Regions from separate parts of the Homo sapiens genome. Here region 1 is linked to region 2. The links come from fine-mapping of genetic effects on gene expression. A gene starts in region 2. The other region holds a variant in brackets. All regions are shown on one strand. Distances are from middle to middle. Region 1 overlaps KLHDC7B-DT (KLHDC7B divergent transcript). Region 2 holds the start of CHKB-DT (CHKB divergent transcript).

Region 1 (2,719 bases), 42 kb before region 2:
CAAAAAAAAAAAAAAAAGGAAAAGATAAGAAAAACAAGTGTTTATATGAAGTATTTTCTCAGAAAAAGAGTAACCCAAATACTTTTCAAGTCCATGTGGCTTGATTAATCTTTAATAAATAAGAATATTGGTGATTTAGTAAAAATGGATATTCTACCTAGCTTTGTTAATCAAATAAACTCATATTATCTCTGTTACAAAATTTGTCAGCAAGAAAATTTTGTATATATATATATGTTTTTTTTAGTAGAGATGGGGTTTCTCCATGTTCGCCAGGCCGGTCTCGAACTCCCGACCTCAGGTGATCTGCCTGACCTCCGCCTCCCAAAGTGCTGGGATTACAGACGTGAGCCACCGCGCCCGGTCTTTTTTTAACTGACATCTTCATTCCATCATCTGAAGAGGCTGCAATCTCTGGGCTCAAAAACTAAGATCATAGTCACTGGTAGTCAAAAAAAAAAAAAACGAACAAGGCTAAGGTCATAATTTACTCCAAAGATTAACCTTTGTTAAATTATTTTGTTTCCATAGAACAATACTTTGAATTCCCCATCATGCAATGCAATCTGAAATGAACAACTTAGCCTCAACAGTGTTCCAAACTAGAAGCTCTTGATACCTTAGGAGCTTAACAAATAAGAGCTTGTGTTCTTGATAAGAAAATTTCCTTATCAATACGTTAGAAATTGTTTTCCAAAATTTAAAGACTCTTAAGAAACAAATGTAAGTCTCTCATGAGATAGACGACGCCGTTGGTTGATTTAATGGGTTAAATCTTGGCTCCTGGGGATCTCAGCTGCAGGGAGTTGCTGAGTCCTTGGTGGTTTTTCTTACAGTCATTGTGTTTACCCAGTTCCTTCATTGTATCCTCTCAAGGGTTTCAACACTTTCCAGCAGCCACTCTCACATCAAATGATTGCCATCAGGATTAAACAACTTACAGAATTCAACACCCCACCACCCAGGTCTATGATGGTGATCACCTGTACACGACTCTGCACTCCAGTGACTACGTCACTCAGTGGTAACAGAGAGCAAAGCTCTACCATCTGGTCATCCTCTCAGCTTGCCCAGTGGGGATTTGTTGAAGTAAATTTTTTTTT[T/G]TTTTTGTGACGGAGTCTCGCTCTGTCACCCAGGCTGGAGTGCAGTAGTGCGATCTCAGCTCACTGCAACCTCTGCCTCCTGGGTTCAGCAATTCTCCTGCCTCAGCTTCCCGAGTAGCTGGGATTACAGGTGAGTACCACCATGCCCAGCTAATTTTTTTGTATTTTTAGTGGAGACGGGGTTTCACCATGTTGGCCAGGCTGGTCTCCAACTCCTGATCTCAGGTGATCCACCTGCCTTGGCCTCCCAAAGTGCTGGGATTACAGGTGTGAGCCACTGCACCCGGGCTGTTTAAGTAAACTAAAATGGAGACCGGGCCTGAAGAATCCCTAAGCAGACAAAACAAGTTAGGTCTCGTAAGTGACTTCAGCCTTGCTTAAATTGAAAACATAAGTGAAACTTAACTTGAGCCATTATTTTGTTTGTTTGTTTTTCAGTAGAGACAAGGTCTTGCTATGTTGCCCAGGCTGGTCTCAAAGACTAGTCATCTGCCCTGCCTCGGCCTCACACCCAAAGTGCTGGGATTACAGGCATGAGTCATTTCTTTTTTTTCTTTTTTGAGACAGAGTCTTCTCTGTTGCCCAGGCTGGAGTGCAATGGCGCAATCTTGGCTCACTGCAACTTCTGCCTACCGGGTTCAAGCAATTCTCCCACCTCACCCTCCCGAGTAGCTGGGATTACAGGCACTTGCCATCATGCCCAGCTAATTTTTGTATTTTTGTAAAGATGGGGTTTCACTATGTTGACCAGGCTGGTCTTGAACTCCTGACCTCAGGTGATCTGCCCACCTCAGCCTCCCACCCAAAGTGCTGGGATTATAGGCGTGAGCCACCATGCCTGGCTGAGTTGTTTCTGATAAATGCTTCCATTAGACAGAGATAAATTTTAATCTACCCAATCATAAGTAACCAACTATCATGATTATATAACTACTGACTTTCCAACAGGATAAGCCAAAGAAAGCAACTCTATAACTGTAACCAATCAAATAATTTCTTTATTGTGCTTCTACATTTTCCCAATAAAAACTTGCACTTGATGTTTTGTCTCTGGAATACTAACGCTCTTTCAGTCAGGTGTTCCCCAATTCATAAATTGCTTTTCACTCAAATAAACCCTTTAAAATTTTGTTGTGAGTCAGATGTTTCTTTAACGCATGGTTGCAAAACGTGCTGTTAGTAAGGAACATGACTGAGATCTACATTCAGGTCCTAGTGCAGTTTCTTTTGCTGTCACCAGGGCCATCTTGCTGGCTTGCCACAGGTTATGTGATAATGACTGGGCATCATTCATGGGAAACTGCACTGCGTAAGCAGGCCTGGCTAGGCCCACAGTAGGCCCCGGGCACATTTTCAGCTGCGAAGCGGAGGACTAGCAACCGGTGAGGTAGAAGGAGAACCAAGAGATGGTGGGAGAATGGGAACTGAGCTGAGAGAGCTTCCGGAAGGTTGCGGTGGCCTAGGGCGATCCACGTCATTGAGAAACGGCGTTAGGCTGATTTCACGGGGCAGATGACATGGAAGTGCTGCTGAGGAAGACGCTGAGCTCCGAGGTGAAAAGGGATGAGGACGCCTAAGAAGACACGAGCGCAATACCTAATACAATTTCCTGAAAT
Region 2 (2,984 bases):
GCGACCGCTCCGCAAGTATGGCGAACATCACGCTTTCTAGCACCAGGGAGTCCACGCCCTGAAAAAGGATGGACAGCAAAGGGGCCAAGGCAAAGTGGCACAGGGACACACATGAGGGCTCGCCTTCCTCCCACCAGAGCTGCGACTTCTGATCCAATTGCCTGGAGGCTCTGGAGCACAGGCTTTAGCGTTGGTCTATTTTTATTTAGAGATGGGGGTCTCACTATGTTGTCCAGGCTGGTCTCGAACTCCTGTGCTCAAGTGATCCTCTCGCCTCAGCCTCCCAAAGCTCTGGGAATACAGGCCCAGGCTTCGGTGTAATGAGGTGTTACTCAGACCGTGAACCTCGGTGTCCTCAACTGCGCAACGGGAACAATACTACCCGCATCGCGTAAGCGACAGGCCCTAAAGCCACTGGTGCTGCGGCGCTCACACCCCCCTCACCTGCAAGATGGCTCCGTACAGCCGCAGAAGCACCTCCCGGGGCTCCTCGCCAACGCTGGGCAGGTGGTCCGGGAGCGAGCAGCGGAAGAGCAGGTTGCTGAGGCCTCCGCTGCAGACCCACACCAGGCGCGCTCAGCCCGCGGCCGGCCCTACCTGCCGCGGCCCCGGCCCCCTCCCGGCCAGGCCGGCCCCGCCCCGCCCCAGGCGCGGGCGCAAGAGGGGGGCGAAAACATGGAGCATCCTGAGGGCCCCGCGGCTGACCCCTGACCCCGATCCGCGCACCGGAGAGGCTGACCCCTGACCTCCCACCTCACGGGGTAAACCCTCAGCTCCTCGGGCTGCACTCGGCGCCAGGCCCCGCCCAAGTACTCCCGGCACCATTGGTAGGCTCGGCGCTCGGCGTCACGCGACAGCGACGAGGCGCGCCGCCGTTTTGGGGTAGTGTCCGGGCACTTAGACTGCTGCAAGCCGTCTTTGGCCAGGCAGCCGCCAACAGCCCCGCTTCCGGCCACAGCTGTCGCCTCGGCCGCCATGGCGCGGGCTCGACCGGGCCCCAGGCCAGGCTGCGCTCCGCTCCCTTCGGACGGGCTCGGTTCCTTCCGGCCGCGCTCGGCTCCTCTTCCGGCCGGCCTGGGCTTCTCCGGTCATACTCGGGTCTCTCCGGCTCTATTCGGCTCACGGCTGCGGCGCTCGGCTCTCTCCGTGCCCCGGCCCGGGGGCTCTTTCCGAAGGCCGAATTCCGCAGATCTCTGCCGGGCCCCGCCCCTATGGGCAAGGACCAATGGTCTCTCTCTGGGCGGGGCTGCTGTTGGACGGCCTGGGCCAATCCGAGGCGCCGGAGGCCAATCAGTTGGCGGAGCGGCGCGTGCGCGGGCGAGGAACTGCCCGGGCGCGGTAGCGTACGGGAAGACCGGAGAGGAGCTGCGTCTCTGCCCCGTGGGAGCCGGCGGGGCGGCGGGGCGGCGGCTGCAGCTGCAGCTCCGGCGCGAGGGCTCCCTTGCCGGGCCCTCTTCCCCGACCCCTGGGGCGCTCCGACAAGGAAGAGCCGTCCAGCGCGCGTCCGTCCTGAGCGTGGGTGAGGCCTGGAGGAGGCGCGCGCGCTAGGCAGGGCCGCACAGCGCGGGCAGAGTGCGGGATGCGGGCACCCGGTGGGTACGCAGTAAACATTTGCTGAAGGAATGTGACCCTTGGGACAGTTCCGATGACTCCAGTTGCATAAATGCCCAGTCTACACGGGGACTCCCTGGCCGGTAGAGCCGCACCTCTGAATGAGGAGTCTTTTGCTGCCCCGCTTGAGATGCGCGTCTTCATTCATTCCCCTCTCCCCCTATCCTCCTCGTCTCCTCCAGGCCTAGAACCAATTACAGAGTCAAACCCAAGAGCCGAAGAAAGTGAAGACTCGCAGCTTGCCGCAGCCCCCTCCTCGGCCTGCGCACCTCCCATTGAGGGCGTCCTGATTTAAACGCGTGCCTCCTGCATTTCTGCTTCTGCCCCAGGCTAGAGCGGCGACCAGGAACGCTGGACCCACAGAGATCTGTGGCAATGTCTGTCGAACCATGGTGTTCTTTGGGGCATCTGACTAGAGTATTGTTTGATAACCAGAAAGAAATCAAAAATTGGTGATCACAAGGCTAATGTCACTTTTGCTGCAGTGGAAAATCATGATCATTCTGTTTAAATCTGAGTCAGTTTTGAGACCTAGAGCCCATTAATTGACAAGGAGGCTTGGTTCCTCTCAGGAAGGATCTTACAATACCAGCATCTGAGCATATACCAAGAAATATTCCTCCAATCCTTCCCTAAAGGGACCTAGAGCCACTTTAAAAAGTAACTGGTCCGGGCGTGGTGGCTCACGCCTGTACTCCCAGCATTTTGGGAGGCCGAGGCGGGCAGATCACTTGAGGTCAGGAGTTTGAGACCACCCTGGCCAACATAGCGAAACCCCGTCGCTACTAAAAATACAAAAATTAGCCGGGTTTGGTGGCTTGTGCCTGTAATCCCAGCTACACGGGAGGCTGAGGCGTGACAATCCCTTGAACCCAGGCCTTGTTGCCGCGAGCCACTGCACTCCAGCCTGAGCGACAGAGTCAGACTCAGTCTCAAAAAAAAAAAAAAAAAAAAGAAAACTGATTCTGGCTGGGGGCAGTGGGTCACGCTTTTAATCCCTGCACTTTGGGAAGCCGAAGTAGGAGGATCGTTTGAGCCCAGGAGTTTGAGACCAGCCTGGGCAACATAGCAAGAACCTGTCTTTACAAAAATTAAAAGATTAGCTGGGCGTGGTGGCAGGTGCCTGTGGTTCCAGCTACTCTGGATGCTGAGGTGAGAGAATCACTTAAGCCCAGGAGGTCAAGGCTGCAGTGACCTGTGTTCACGCCACTGCACTCCAGCCTGAGCAACACAGCAAGACTGTCTGAACAGCAACAACAAACACACCAAAAAAACTAGTTTACTTCGGAAAAGGGACTGTCTAGGTCTTTGAAGGGCTGATACAGGATCTGAGCTGACACTGTTTCCAGGAGCCCTGAAGCATCATGGCCCTC

What was found. PIP is the estimated chance that this variant, and not a neighbour inherited with it, causes the effect.
Region 1: its variant is fine-mapped to the expression of CHKB-DT in whole blood (INTERVAL, PIP 0.95).

What each region holds. Positions count from the first base shown.
Region 1 is chr22:50,540,224-50,542,942 of GRCh38, forward strand. It overlaps KLHDC7B-DT (KLHDC7B divergent transcript), which reads right to left. Exons shown (of 4, transcript NR_199716.1): 4 at 2,080-2,676. It overlaps LOC102724608 (a long non-coding RNA gene), which reads left to right. Exons shown (of 2, transcript XR_430484.4): 1 at 1-1,233; 2 at 2,344-2,719. Among named protein-coding and RNA genes, the nearest start is that of KLHDC7B, 4.3 kb to the right of the region's middle. RefSeq lists enhancers at 919-998, 1,059-1,168, 1,457-1,751, 2,440-2,609. The variant T/G (reference allele first, on the strand shown) is at 1,104.
Region 2 is chr22:50,581,805-50,584,788 of GRCh38, forward strand. CHKB-DT (CHKB divergent transcript) reads left to right here and starts at 1,222. Exons shown (of 4, transcript NR_110536.1): 1 at 1,222-1,519. CHKB (choline kinase beta) reads right to left here and starts at 1,045. Exons shown (of 11, transcript NM_005198.5): 1 at 754-1,045; 2 at 445-553; 3 at 1-58. The coding sequence starts at 977. CHKB-CPT1B (CHKB-CPT1B readthrough (NMD candidate)) reads right to left here and starts at 1,195. Exons shown (of 30, transcript NR_027928.2): 1 at 754-1,195; 2 at 445-553; 3 at 1-58. RefSeq lists silencers at 542-741, 1,072-1,161, 1,192-1,591.